Linked DNA regions of Homo sapiens. The protein of the gene in region 2 interacts with the protein of the main gene of each other region in a pairwise test. Each region holds a gene or a part of one and is shown on either strand. Other genes may lie near its edges.

Region 1 (7,272 bases), on a different chromosome or scaffold from region 2:
GGACCTATCACAGTGACTTGACAAAATAGTTATCTTTCTTTTAAAAATAGCAGCACTAACAACTTCCTTAAGGAGTCGATTTAAATAATTTAGAGTCTATCAGACATTTTGTTACCTTGTTAAGTTTAGATGCTAGGGGATCTGCTGCCTCTTTCCTCTGTGTGTTACCCATTGCTGCCAGTAAACTCAGCTGAAACTGATCTTCCTTGCAGTTCATTTCATTCTTAGCAGTTAGTTGCATGAAGGAAATGGGGTCATCAGGCTGTACTGTCACATTCCTCTTTTCAGATTCTTTCTGTGTTGAGAATATAACAAAGTCTCTCTTTAATATGAAAAGATAGTTTTTTAGAGGCTTTTGACAGAGACAGCCCTCACATATGAAAACTGAAAAATCAACAAAACAACAAGAAAACCCACAAAGCACTTTTCTTTTCTTTTTTTTCTTCCTGAGACAGGCTGTTACTCTGTTGCCCAGGCGGAGTGCAGTGGTATGATCACAGCTCACTGCAGCCTCGAACTCTTAGATTCAAACGATCCTTCATCCTCAGCCTTCCAAGTAGCTGGAATGACAGGCACATACCACCATGCCTGGCTAATTTTCTCATTTTTTTTGTTGAGACAGGGGCTTGCTATGTAGCCCACACTGGTCTCAAACACCTGGCCCCAAGGAGTCCTCCTGCCTCAGCCTCCCAAAGTGCTGGGATTACAGGCGTGAGCCACTGCACGAAGAGACACAAAACACTTTTGTTGCCTCATCATATATACCTTACCTTTTGGGATAATTTCTCTTCTTCTAGTTTAGCAGATAACATGTGAGAAAGGGACTGTCTGCATTCCTTATTGAAAATGTCATTCATTAAAGGTGAACATTCAGACAAGACCTTGAGGCACAGGGAAATTCGATCCACATCATCATCAGTAATTGGCTTCTTAGGAAGAGAGGATTTTCCCAAATGCAGGATAGTAGCCATGAGCAACATAGCCTCAGCAACAAAAGACTAAGAAAGTAAAGAAATCGGTTACTGATATTGTCTTGATTCTCAGATTGCAATCATGTCACTTCATTATAACTCACAATCTAAATTTTCACTTCACCTGAATAAGATTTCAAATTCTTTGGATTTTATGTCCATATCTGTTTTTGCATTCTTCTCCTTCCTTTCTACTCTTAACTGCCACTCTCTAAGACCTGCATTAATCCTCAATTAGAGACAGCAGAGGCTTTTTAACTGTTTTCCCTTGCTCCAGTCCTTCTCTGTAACCACTTCATATGCTGATGCTGTCCTTTTTAATCCCAACTACAGAAAAGTTAAAAGAATGATATACTTTACCAATTGTTAACATTTTGCCACATTTGCTTACCTATTCTGTATATGTACACTTATTTTTTTTGGCTGACATGTGAAAAAGTCTTCACCTCATAAATGCTTCAGCATTCATCTCCTAAGAGTCAGAACAGTTTCCTACAAACCACAATTTCATTTTCTCATCTGAAAAATTCAACAATTCCAAAATACAGCTTCTATACTCTGAATTCAAATAAATCTCCCTAAATTGTCTTAAAATGTTTTTGTTTTATTTTTTAAATCCAGGATCAGCTTCATGCATTTTATCCCTCTTAATCTAGACCAGTTCTCTGCCGTTTTGTTTTTAATCGCACTAACTTTTTTAAAGAACTGAGGCCAGTTGTTTTATAGAATATCCCACACTTTTGATTAGAATACCAGATAGGTGATGTTTTGTATTTCACCCTGTACTGCATCACAAGGTACCTAAAGTTAGGCTGTCCAATTATTGTGCTGCTAAGCGTGATCACCTGATGCTGCTATCTTAATCTTTATACTGCACCAATCATTTCATTCCCTATGTAAATACCTTTAATGAATGTCAGCCTTCATACTGAAGTCCGTATTACTTAGCTCGCTATTCAAAGTCTTCCACAAGTGATTGCAACTTACTTTTTTAGTCTCATGTAGCATTATCCTGACACATATGCTCTAAGCCCTTGCCAAATTGCCTTTGGCTGAGTACTGATCTGCACACATGCATGAAAAACTACTGGAGGCCTGGGAAAAACCAGCAGAAGAGTAAGTATATGTCCCCCAAGTTTGGATACTGTCTCCAAAAGGAGAGGAAAGAGAGGAGGGGACAGAAAAAAAAATCCGAGGAAATGACTGAAAATTTCCCAAACTGATGGAGATATAAACCTGCAAACCCAACAAGCTCAATGAACCACAAGTACAGCAAACATGAAGAAAACCACACTAAGGCATATCCTAATCAAATTACTGAAACCAAGTGAAAAGGAGAAAATCTAAAACCAGTGGAAGAAATACACACACACACACACACACACACACACACACACACACACACACACTCTCTCTCTCTCTACACCCAGGGAGATAAGAATGACAGTAGACTTCTCACCAAAAAGCCAGAAGACAATGGAGCTTTACTTTTACACTACTGGGAAAAAAAAACAGAAGACTTAGAATCCTATACCCACAAAGGTAACTTTCTAAAGTGTACAAAAAAATAGGCTTTTTCCAGACAAAAACTGGAACAATCTGTTGCCAACAAATCTGCACTATAAGAAAAGTTAAAGCAAATTCTTTAGGCAAAAGATGTATGATACCAGAAACTTAGTCCTACACAAAGAAATGAAGAGTGTTGGAAATGGCATAAATGAAGGAGTGCCAGTGAGATTATAAGCAACCAAACTTCCTTCTTGTACCAAACAGTGCAAACATTATTAACTCGGTATGTTACAAGAAACTGGCTCTTTTAAGCAGGTATCAGTAAACACTCCCAACTTCCAGAAGTGATGCAACCAGGAGAGGAAAGCAAATTCAACTCTGAGATAAAAAAATGTTGGAGACTTTTAAAAAACATACTTTAAAGATTATACTGTGACCAGACCTGAATAAATAAATGCCCACAAAAGAGTTACAAAATAAATTATTGCTCAAAAATCAAATCAATTAAGGGATAATATACCTTGTAAATTATCTGGCTCTCATTTATGGCTTTTCTTATAATGGAATTAAAACAAAAACAAAAAGAACCTGGCCAGGCACGGTGGCTCATGCCTGTAATCCCAGCACTTTGGGAGGCCGAGGTGGGCGGATCACCTGAGGTCAGCAGTTCGAGACCAGCCTGGTCAACATGGTGAAACCCCAGTCTCTACTAAAAATACAAAAAAAATTAGACAGGCGTGGTGGCAGGCGCCTGTAGCCCCAGCTACTCGGGAGGCTGAGCCAGGAGAATTGCTTAAACCCAGGAGGCGGAGGTTGCAGTGAGCTGAGATCATGCCATGGCACTCCGGCCTGGGCAAGAAGAGTGAGACTCCGTCTAAAAAAAAATTTTTTTTTAGATCAAGCTGTTAGTCTCCAAAAACGAAGGAAATATGAGTGATGTGAGTGAAAGTGTTTCAATTTAGAAACCTGCTGTATAGATAACCAACATAATACGAAAGCTGAAGGAATCAAAAGGAGTCCCATTGCTACAGGCCCAATTTGAATGTCAGAAATTGCTGTGGTAGGACATTGTAACCAACTCTGCGCTACTACCACAAATGTTCTATGGATTCTGTTTCTTAAATAATAAGAGTTGAAACTACTTGATCAGTGGCAGCATAATGGATGTTGTCTTAGCAGGCATGAAAACATTCATTTCTTTCTACATCTCCATCAGAGCTCTTGGGTGACCAGCTAAATTGTCAATGAACAGTAATATTTTAAAAGGAGTCTTTTATTTCTGAGCAGTAGGTCTCAATGGTGAGCTTAAAATACTTAGTAAGCCATCCCGTAAAGAGGATGTGCTGACATCCAGGCTTTGTTGTTCCACTGACAGAGCACAGACAGAGTTGATTAAGCACAATTCTTAAGAGCCCTAGGATTTTCAAAATGGGAAATGAGCAATGGCTTCAACTTAAGTTACTGGTTGTATTAGCCCTTACCAAAAGAGTCAGCCTATCCTTTGAAGCTTTGAAGCCAGGCACCGACTTCTCTCTAGCTACCAAAGTCCTAGATGGCATCTTCTTCCAATATAAGGTTGTTTAGTCTACACTGAAAATCTGTTGTTTAGTGTGGTCACCTTCACCAATGATCTTGGCTAGATCTTCCAGATAACTTGCCACAGCTTCTCCATTAGGACTTGCTACTTCATGTCAAACTTTTACATTATGAAGACGGGCTTATTTCCTTAAACCTCATGAATCAACCTCTGCTAGCTTCAAACTCTTCTTCTGAAGCTTCCTAACCTCTCTCAGCCTTCATGGAATTGAAGAGAGTTAAGGTCTTAGTCTGGATTAGGCTTTTGGCTTAAGGGAATCTTGTGGCTGGTTTTATCTTCTATCCAGACCACTCAAACTTTCTATCAGCAATAAAGCTATTTCGCTTTCTTTCTTCTTCTTTTTTTTCCTCGAGACGGAGTCTTGTTCTGTCTCCCAGGCTGGAGTGCAGTGGTGTGATGTCAGCTCACTGCAACCTCTGCCTCCCATGTTCAAACAATTCTCCTGCCTCAGCCTCCCAAGTAGCTGGGAGTACAGGCGCCTGCCACCACACCTGGCTAATTTTTGTATTTTTAGTAGAGACAGGGTTTCACCATGTTGGCCAGGCTGGTCTCGAACTCCTGACCTCGTGATCCGCCTGTCTCGGGCCTCCCAAAGTGCTGGTGTGAGTCACCACGCCTGCCAAATGTTTCACTTTCTTATCATTCATGTGTTTACTGGAGTAGCACTTTTAATTTCCTTTAAGAGCATTTCCTTTGCATGCATAACTTGGCTACCTACTTGGCAAAAGCAGCCTAGCTTTTGGCTTAGCTCAGCTTTTGACATGCATTCCTTACTAAGTTTAATTATTTCTCACTTTTGATTTAAAGTGAAAGACATGTGACTCTTCCCTTCACTTAGAAGCCACTGTAGGATTATTAACCGGCCTAATTTCAATATTGTGGTATCTCAGGGAATAGAATAGGGAGGCCCAAGGAGGAAAGAGACGGGGTAACAGCCGGAACACACACAACAATTATTGATTACGTTTACTATTTTATATGGGAATGGTTCCTGGCATCCCAAAACAACTATGATAGTAACATTAAAGATCACTGATAACAGATCACCATAACAGATGTAATAATAATGAAAAAGTTTGAAATATTGTGAGAATTACCAAAATGTAACACAGAGATATGAAGTGAGCATATGCTTATTTGGAAAAATGATGCTAACAGACTTGCTCAACTCAGGGTTCCCACAAACCTTCATTTGTTTAAAAAAAAAAAAAAAAGCAATATGTGCAAAGTACAATAAAATGAAGTATGCCTGTAAATGCTATGTAAATAATTGTTACACTGCATTGTTTTCAACTTTCTATTATTTTTTACTGTTTATCATTTTTTAAAAAAGATATTTTCAATCCATAGTTGGTTGAATCTGCAGGTGCAGAAGCTGTGAATATGGAGGACCAACTGCATACCATTGTAAATGGGTGTTTGGTTAGAACGGTCAGAAGCTACAAAGCAGGCATGAACTACAGATGAGAATAACTTAAGAGACATTCTGGGATAAAACAGACAATGACCGAATGGATGCAGATGCTGGAGAGAAGGACATTTCCTTCACTGGTCCTGAACTAATCCCAGCAAACTGAGGTGACTTCATAAATCCTTTCTCTTCCACTGGAATAATCACATGACATTGTTATTGTATTACTTTGTCAATTTTCATTTTTTTAAAGCCCAAACAGAAGAGGAAGATACTTTATCAATTTTAGAGTAATATATTACTGTGTCCACTTCTGCTATTAAATCATAAACTCTTTCATGACAGAAACTTAGCATTAATTTTTGAGTCCCTCACTGTTCAATGCATATAGTAGGCACTCAATGTTTAATTGTTGGTTAAATGTAAAATAAATGAACTTACATTTTGCTTTTTCTTCTCCTGAACCAAAGCTACATAGCGCAATGCAATCTTGGTCAGAGTTGTGGCAAGGGAGGCAGCAACAAAGAAATCTCCATCCAGAAGGAATCCTCTCAAGGGAGGTCTGCAAAGCAACCAAGGAAAATCAAACCCACCAACTTGCTAAGCAGCATGCAGCTTCTGTATAAATGAATGATATAGGCCTATTAAACACTCTTATTACCATCCTTCAGTGATAAGGATACCTTAGCTAACTAACTCCTTAGCTCCCAGAAGAAAGAAGGAAAAAGAAAAATAATACATGACTTTAAAACTTATCTTTGGCCAGGTGCAGTGGCTCACACCTGTAATCCCAGCACTTTGGGAGGCCAAGGCGGGCGGATTACCTGAGGTCAGGAGTTCGAGGACAGCCTGGCCAACATGGTGAAACCCCGTCTCTACTAAAAATACAAAAATTAGCTGGGCATGGTGGCACAAACCTGTAATCCCAGCTACTCAGGAGATTGAGGCAGGAGAACTGCTTGAGCCCAGGAGACAGGTTGCAGTGAGCCATGATCGCGCCACTGCACTCTAGCGTGGCCGACAGAGCAAGACTCTGTGTCAAAAAAAAAAAAAAAAAAAAAAAAAAGAAAACTTATCTTTGAATGACACAAAAGCCATCAGAATATGGAAAGATACAATATTTAATTAGGGGCATACGTAATTGCAGCTAATGAAGTACCTCCGAATTCCAGCTTACCTGTTTATTTACTGGGTAAGCCTCAAATTCTTCTTCCATAAAATGGAGATAATATATTCTATCTCAAAGGCTTATTGTCAAGACTATATGAGACAAACTACTTAGCACAATGCCTAGCACTTAGTGGGTATTCAGTAAAATTTTAGGCAAAGATTTCACCATCTTCACCATTAAAATTTACTTAATAGAAAAATGCACAATTTTATTCCATCATTTAGAAATTGAAAAATCTTCAAAATGTTTTCAGATGCTAATAAACAACAAAACTCAAATATCTTCAGTTACCCCCACTTAGCATTTTCTGAGTAAAAATAATTTGAGTTTAAACAGAACAGTTATTTCCATAAAAACACTGGAAGGGACAGAGAATTAAAACCATCAATACAATTCCTAGGGGGAAGAACTTAAACATCCTCCGCTTCTCAAGTACCTTAAATGGCAAAGATTTTCATTTTGGTTGCAAAAGCAAGAGGAAAGAAATCATTTGACTGTCTTACATACAAGAGTAATAATAAAAGTAGTACAGCTGGCAGGGTATATGTGCCATAAATTACCTGTCTTCCTCTTTCTTGGTGGGTCTAGAACTGCTAAGGGCACTCTGAGTTGC
Region 2 (7,272 bases):
GAATGAACCCTAGTGGAAGCTGTGGGCTCTGGGTGATGATGTGTGCATCTGGGCTCATCAGTTGTAATGGATGTACCACTCTGGTGCAGGGTTTTAGGGTGGAGTAAGAGGCTGTGCGTGTGTGGGGCAGCAGATATATGGGAACTCTCTACTGTCCACTTAATTTTGCTGTGAACCTAAAACTGCTCTAAAAACAAGCTTTTTTTTTTTTTTGGAGACAGAGTCTAGCTCTGTCACCCAGGAGGGAGTGCAGTGCCATGATCTTGGCTCACTGCAACCTCCACCTCCTGGGTTCAAGCAATTCTATGCCTCAACTCAACCTCCTGAGTAGCTGGGATTACAGGCATGAGCCACCGCACCCAACCCTAAGCTTATTTTTTAATATAAGCAAACATTCTCCTCTGTGTATCACCTCTAACCTCTGTTTGGGATCTTGCTTATAGTGCTGCGGTGGGCGTTGGTTTCTATGGAAACAGCGAGACCAACGATGGGGCGTACCAGCTGATGTACTCCTTGGACGATGCCAACCACACCTTCTCTGGGATCGATGCTCTGGTAAGGCTCCCGGGCAGCTGGCCGGGTACAGGCACAGCCCACAAGGTCAGCGTGGTCAGAGCAAGGGCCCCCGTCAGATCCCAGCTAGCTCAGCTGCACACGGAGGGGCTGTGTGACGCCTGAGGGCTGGACCCCCGCCTGCGCTGCAGTTGCCTCTGCTGGGGCAAATGGGCAATTGTGCGTTCCAAGCCTGCAGGGGTGGCAGGGATGGGGGTGAGGACTAAAGGAGGCAGCTGTGGGATCAAACCCCATTTTCCAACAAGCCGAACACTTTCTGATTTGTCAAAGGAGACCTTGAACATGGAAAATCAGCCCCACTGCATTTTTTGTTTTCATTTTAAGTGCTGCATATGGAGTATTGCAAGGTCCAGGAGATGCCAAGAGGAAAAAACTCTCTTCAGAGACAACTGAGGGCTGGGCGTGGTGGCTCACTCCTGTCTTCCCAGCACTTTGAGGGAGGCCAAGGCATGTGGAGCTCAGGAGTTTGAGACCAGCCTGGGCAACATGGCAAAACCCTGTCTGTACCAAAAATACAAAAATTAGCCAGTTGTGGTGTGGTTCCAGCTACTTGGGAGGCTGAGGCAGGGAGATCACTTGAGCCTGGGAAGCGGAGGTTGCAGTGAGCCAAGATCACGCCACCACACTCCAGCCTGGGCAACAGAATGAGACTCCATCTCAAAAATTAAAGAAAAAAAAAAAATTGAAGAGCCCCGTGATGTAAGGTAGTGGAGACCTGCCCCAGCTCCTCGGAGCTCTGGCTTCCAGGCAGTGACTCCAGGTGGGGGCTCACAGTGAAGGATGCTCTGGCCTGGCCAGAGGAGGTGTCAGACTCTTAGGGGAAGGGGAAGGCTACTCTGCCAAGCCAGGGCTGGATTTTGTGGCAGACGCTGCCTGATACACACGAGCCTTTTGCTGGGGCTGCCACCCCTCTGCTGGGGACCTGGCCCAGGGAGGAGCACGACAAGGGTGGACATCTGAGGACTTGGTTCCCTGAAAACTGCCTCTGCCTTTTCTACCCCAGCTGCCTGGAATTGGAGTTTTCCCACAGTTTGACCTTGGCCCCCACACACGTCATTCTCACTCTAAGCACCAGACCTTTTCAGCTGCTTATCCGAGCAGCCTCTGCCACAAAATCCAGCCCCAACAGGAGAATTTGGCCATTGCCCCGGCATCCTCCAGAAGAGGATTGGACCCCATTTGCCCCCCTCCTGCTCCCTTAAGCTCCTCTAAGGCTTTAATCCCTCAGTCAACAAGGGGGGTCGGGGGTGTCACCTTAAAGAGACAGCTGTGCTGCTCCTCCGTGCCCAAGTCAATTGTGGGAGGAGGCCCTGGCCTCCAGAAAGGGGCTGAGGGTGGCTACAAAACCAGGGGCCCTGGTCCTTTGCAGAGTTCATTCCACCGCCCGTGTCCACTGGGACCCATCCCCTTAGCTGAGCGCTGAGTCCCAGTGCGGAGATGCTAGTCTGGAACAGCCTTGCGCGGTGAGCTGGGGCGGCTGGGTTGGAGGAGCTGAGGGACAGCCAGCTCAGGCCTGGGAGGCAGAGGTGTGGCCTGCCTGGGGAGAACTCTCCCTCTGGGCACCCACCCTTGCCCCAGGCCCTGGTGGGGAAGGGCCCCATGGTCACTGCCCTCTAGGCTCTCTCTGCCCCTCCCTGCCATCCTGCTGCCTGCCTCCTCTTCACCCACCAGCACCAGGATCACTGGAGGAGGAACCTAGCCCCGAGAGGAAAATCCCCTGCCCTGCCCAGGAAGGCACCAGGGCCATGACCTTCACGGGTTTAGAGAAACTCCCAGAACTCCCTTATGGGAAAACATCAAGTCCTAGAAGTCCCTATCCCACAGGACGAGAGCTGCCAGGGAGGGGAGCTGGAACGGGCCCCCAGGCTGGGGCCTCCCACCCCATGGCCTGATGGTGCTCCAGGGCCAGGTTTGGACATTTCACAGCAGGTTCCACTCTCTGAAATCCCTGCTCCAGGGCCAGGTTTGGACATTTCACAGCAGGCCCCACTCTCTGAAATCCCCTGTGTTCCCAAAGAGAAGGGTTCTGTATCCCTGGAGATCAGCCCCTCGTCCTCTCCGTTGTTACCGAGAAGTGAGGTCAGGAGTCCCAGGGCTTCACACTGGTCCAGCCAGCCCATAGCTGCCTCCAGCCTGTGGGTGGTCACCTCCCCCTCTGGCGTGAACCCCTAGGGCCCAGGTGTAGCTGCTGCCTTGCCTCCAGGTGGAAAGGTGGCACTGGGTCCTTACTAGGACCTGTGAGGCTGGTTTGGGCCTCAGAGTGGACACCCAGCACACCAGTCCTCAGGGCTCCAGGGGAGGCAGCAGATCTTAGAAGACTTCCCAGATCCAAGGGGAGAAGTCCGGATATCAGATAAATGACTAGTGAGATAATGTCAGTGAAAGTGCTGGTAGACTGTAAAGTACACTCAGCTGTATGACTGTGATTATGAGTGCTATTAATTACTGTAATCACCTTGGGGTCAGCGGGAGGCTGGGATCCAGGACGCTGTGGGCGGCAGAGGCAGATGGGGGACTCGTCGACAGGTCAGGCAGGACCTGGATCTGGGCCTTGCCAGAGGCCAGATCATGCAGCTGAGTGGCCAACAAGAAGCCCTCTAGGGATGCACCCACAGAGTGGGGTGGGCCCTGCTCCAAGTCCTCCTTTCCTGGACTGGAAGCCCCATACCTATGCACGTCCAACTAGAGGGACACCTGTGCCTTGGTGGGTAGGGGCGGTGGTTCAGGGATCAGGCGGTCCTGGGAGGGCTGCACGCCCCAGTCTAGGGGAGTAGAGAGGAGTCGTTTTGGGATACCAAAACTTCCTGTACCTGGTAGCCAGCACGGCCCCTCCAGGCTCTCTCATGTGAGTCTGCAGCAGGCTGATGGGCAGCCCTCAGATGTAGAAACTGAGGCACAGGGAGGTTGCATTGCTGACCCGAGGTTGAAAATGTGTATGTTTCAGAGCAGAAACCAGAACCCAGGCCTCCTGGTCTTAGCCCCTTACCTCCACTGACCTGGCCCATCCACACTTCCAGATAAGCTCACTGAGCGCTGGAGAGTCCTCCCTCCCAGAAGTTTTCATACTTGAGCTTGCATCAGAATCACCTGGAAGGGTTGGTAAACACTGATTGCAGGGCCCTGCCCCCAGAGGTTCCGCTTCAGCGGTCCTGGGGCAGGGCTGAGAGCTTTTGCTTTTGTGAGTGAGTTCCCAGGGGGTGCATCTTACGCCCCTAGTCCCGGGACCACACTTGAGAACTGCTCTTTCCTCTAGACCGTGGTCTCCGCCACCTGTAGCTCGTCCCTAAGTCTGCCCAGCCTGGAAAACTGACCTGTCCCTCCTGTTCTCAGAGCTTTCCGTGAGAGAGAGCCTGATTCCATCTCTGGGTCATCCCACCTGTCCCTGCGGGGAGTATTATGTCCTGAAACTTTAAGGAATTGGGGATGGTATAGAGAAGTGGGGAGTTGTAAGTAGGTCACTGCTGTCATTCTTATTTTTTAAAATTTTAGGATCTTTTGAGCCTAGGAGTTCAAGAACAGCCTGGGCAGCATAGCGAGACCCCATCTCAAAAAAACAATTTTTTAGTTTTGTTTCCTGTGGGAAAATATCAGGAAGAAAGAGAAGGCATGACAAATACAAATACTGCCTTCTTTTTTTTTCCCCCTAAGGAGGAGTTTAAGAAATAGAGAAGTTAACTGTGAGAGAGTAGAACTGTGAGGGAGAAAACAAGTGGCCTCACAGAAAAAGTTTACAGATAATTTTTTAACAGCCCTTTACTCTGAAGTTTGTTTGATTTATAGAAATATAGAAATATAGAAATGTCACCTATTACTGGGTTTGTTCAGAATGGCACTATTCTTTGATGATAGTGCCATTTGTATAAATGTTTCCAAAGTGGTTGTACATTTATCTTATTAAATTGAACAGCCAAGTGTACTAGCATGACATTTAGTTACTGAATGTACTTTTACATGGTTTGGGGTCTTTTCCCCTGTGCTTCGGGCTGTCGAATCTGCACATGGTAGAGTGTCTCCGTACTCTGGTATCTCTTAGTCCTTAACCAACTCGTAAGAACCAAGCATAAGCCAGAAAACGGAACAAGCCGCTGACACTGAAAAAATAAAACAAAATGAAACAAAGAGAGCCATTCTCTTTTCTGGAACTAGGAACTCCCAGCGTAGCGCAGATGTAAAAGGCCACACAGCTGATGTGAAGTCCCCATAACACAGAGAACACCGTTGGCCTCCGAGAGTGGAATCTAATCGGCCTTGCTGATCTCACTGTGGGAAGTTTCTGCCTCTTCTTCTGTGTCGTTTTTATCTCCCAGACCCGTGGGAGCTGAAGGCTGCCGAGTGTGGATTAGTGCACACTGCCCCACTCCCGGCCCGTTGTGCTTCTTGGTTTAGTGTGACAGTTTCAGAACAACAAAGCCCTTTCTCCGCTCGCTGCCAGCAAGGGCGTGCTTGGGGCTGCCAAGCTGCACCCCGGGGTTCTGCAGGCACCCTGGGTCTGGGCTGTGGGAAAGTCCCGCTAACCAGTACGAGCCCTGCCTGTGCTCTTCAAAAGCCAGCTAGGGTTGACCACTTGGACCATTAGAAATGGATGCACATGGCCGGGCGTGGTGGCTCATGCTTGCAATCCCAGCATTTTGGGAGGCCGAGGTGGGTGGATCACTTGAGGCCAGGAGCTCGAGAGACCAGCCTGGCCAACATGGTGAAACTGTCTCCACTAAAAATACAAAAATTAGCCGGGCATGGTGGTGCACACCTGTAGTCCTAGCTACTTGGGAGGGAGGCTGAGGCAGGAGAATCACTTGAACCCGGGAGGCGGAGGTTGCAGTGAGCCAAGATTGCACCACTGCACTCCAGCCTGGGTGACACAGAGCGAGACTCCATCTCAAAAAAAAAAAAAAAACAAAAAAGAGAAAGAAAGAAATGGATGAACGGGCTACTCTGGCACACTGCCTAGAGGGTAGCCCTGCTCTGCAAGGAGCAGTACCTTTAAATATAAATAAATAAATAATGTTTTTAACTGGATGGCCAGCCGTCAACTTTCTATTTCTGTCTTGCATTGGCAGATGTTTCCTTCAGGGTCCACTCAACCCCAGGCCCTTAGGGCTCAGCCAAGGGACAGGAGCCTGTCTGCCCACCCAGCAGGACACACATCCAGGGGAGGATGTGAATACAAGGAGAAGGCGCCGGTTTCCTCCTCCTGCCTCATGTCCAGGCTCCTCAGAGACAGGATCGCAGCTGTTTTTGTTTTTGCAAAGTCCCATTGTCCTGCCTTCACTCAGCGTTCAGGACCCGGTGTGCTGCGGCTAGTGCCACAACAAAGCTTTTCTCTTATAGAACAATTAGAAATCCTATTGTGGGGATACAAGGTCAAGGTAGCAACATAGAGTCTGTTTCTCTAAAAGAGAATTTGTAAGCCAAAGTGCTGAAAGTTTTAAGAGAATCTTCAAAGAATAATGGATTATTTTGTTGGTTTCTCCATCTGGGTGTCTCTGTATATAGTAAGGTATAGTAATGAATGCATACGTTTATTCCAGCCCTTTACAGCAGGGGCCACGTGGTGGGCACACAGGATAGCCTCCTTAGTAGAGAGCAACAGAGGCTCCAGAGGGCAGGGATGTGCCCACACTCCCAGCGCCAGAGGCTAGACCTGGCCTCAGCCTGCAACACATAATGGTGTGCTCCTTTGGCGCCAGCATTCTCTCTCTCGGAGCCCAGATCCTGTTTAAGGCCAGGTCAGGGACTGCCCCCTGGTTTGAGGGACATGAGGACTGGGTGGGTAGTGGCGGCCTCTGTCTTCAGTCCTTCCTCCAGGGGCACAGGCTCGAGATCTTCAGGCCTGGGGCAGCATGGTGTGTTCATTCATGCCTAAGCAGGCCAGGCCAGCTTTTTTTTTTTTTTTTTCGACACAGAGTATCACTCTTGTCGCCCAGGCTGGAGTGCAATGGTGCGATCTTGACTCATTGCAGACTCCGCCTCCCGGGTCCAAGTGATTGTCCTGCCTCAACCTCCCAAGTAGCTAGGACTATAGGTACATGCCACCACACCTGGCTAATTTTTATATATTTTTTTGTAGAGACAGGGTCTCACTGTGTTGCCCAGGCTGGTCTCAAACTCCTGGGTTCAAGCAATCCGCCTGCCTCAGCCTCCCGAAGTGCTGGGATGACAGGCATGAGCGTAATTATCGCACCTGGCCAGGCCACCTTCTGCTGCCTGCAAAGACCTCTTCCGGGATGAGAATCAGAAGCTCTACCTCCATGGCTTTTGCCCCCTGCTCCTCCCTAGGTTTCCGGAACTACCCAGAAGATGAAGGTGGACCTAGAGCAGCACCTGGCCCGGCTCAGTGAGATCTTTGCTGCCCGGGGCGATTACCTGCAGACCCTGAAGTTCATACAGCAGATGGCGGGCAGCGTTGTTGTTCAGCTCTCAGGACTGCCCGTGTGGAGGGAGGTCACCATGGAGCTGACCAAGCTATCCGACCAGACTGGCTACGTGGAGTACTACAGGTGAAGGACCGGTGGGAGGCAGAGGGAGGGGCAGCAGCGGCTACATCAGCTTTGTTTATCCAAACCTGCATGTTGAGCTCCAGGTGGAGAAGGGCCACTGGAAAGTATTTTTTTTTTGTTTTGTTTTTTTAAGACAGAGTCTTGCTCTGTTGCCCAGGCTGGAGTGAAGTGGCACGATCTCAGCTCACTACAATCTCTACCT

Evidence for each region.
Region 1: the proteins of TTYH2 (region 2) and COPB1 interact in binary tests that used the Homo sapiens proteins (3 or more experiments, as listed by UniProt).

What each region holds. Positions count from the first base shown.
Region 1 is NC_000011.10:14,468,566-14,475,837, forward strand, and holds part of COPB1 (coatomer subunit beta), read right to left. Parts: coding exon 7,220-7,272; intron 6,051-7,219; coding exon 5,930-6,050; intron 999-5,929; coding exon 771-998; intron 296-770; coding exon 116-295; intron 1-115. UniProt on the Homo sapiens protein: The coatomer is a cytosolic protein complex that binds to dilysine motifs and reversibly associates with Golgi non-clathrin-coated vesicles, which further mediate biosynthetic protein transport from the ER, via the Golgi up to the trans Golgi network.
Region 2 is NC_000017.11:74,230,445-74,237,716, forward strand, and holds part of TTYH2 (protein tweety homolog 2), read left to right. Parts: intron 1-443; coding exon 444-555; intron 556-6,849; coding exon 6,850-7,070; intron 7,071-7,272. UniProt on the Homo sapiens protein: Calcium-independent, swelling-dependent volume-regulated anion channel (VRAC-swell) which plays a pivotal role in the process of regulatory volume decrease (RVD) in the brain through the efflux of anions like chloride and organic osmolytes like glutamate.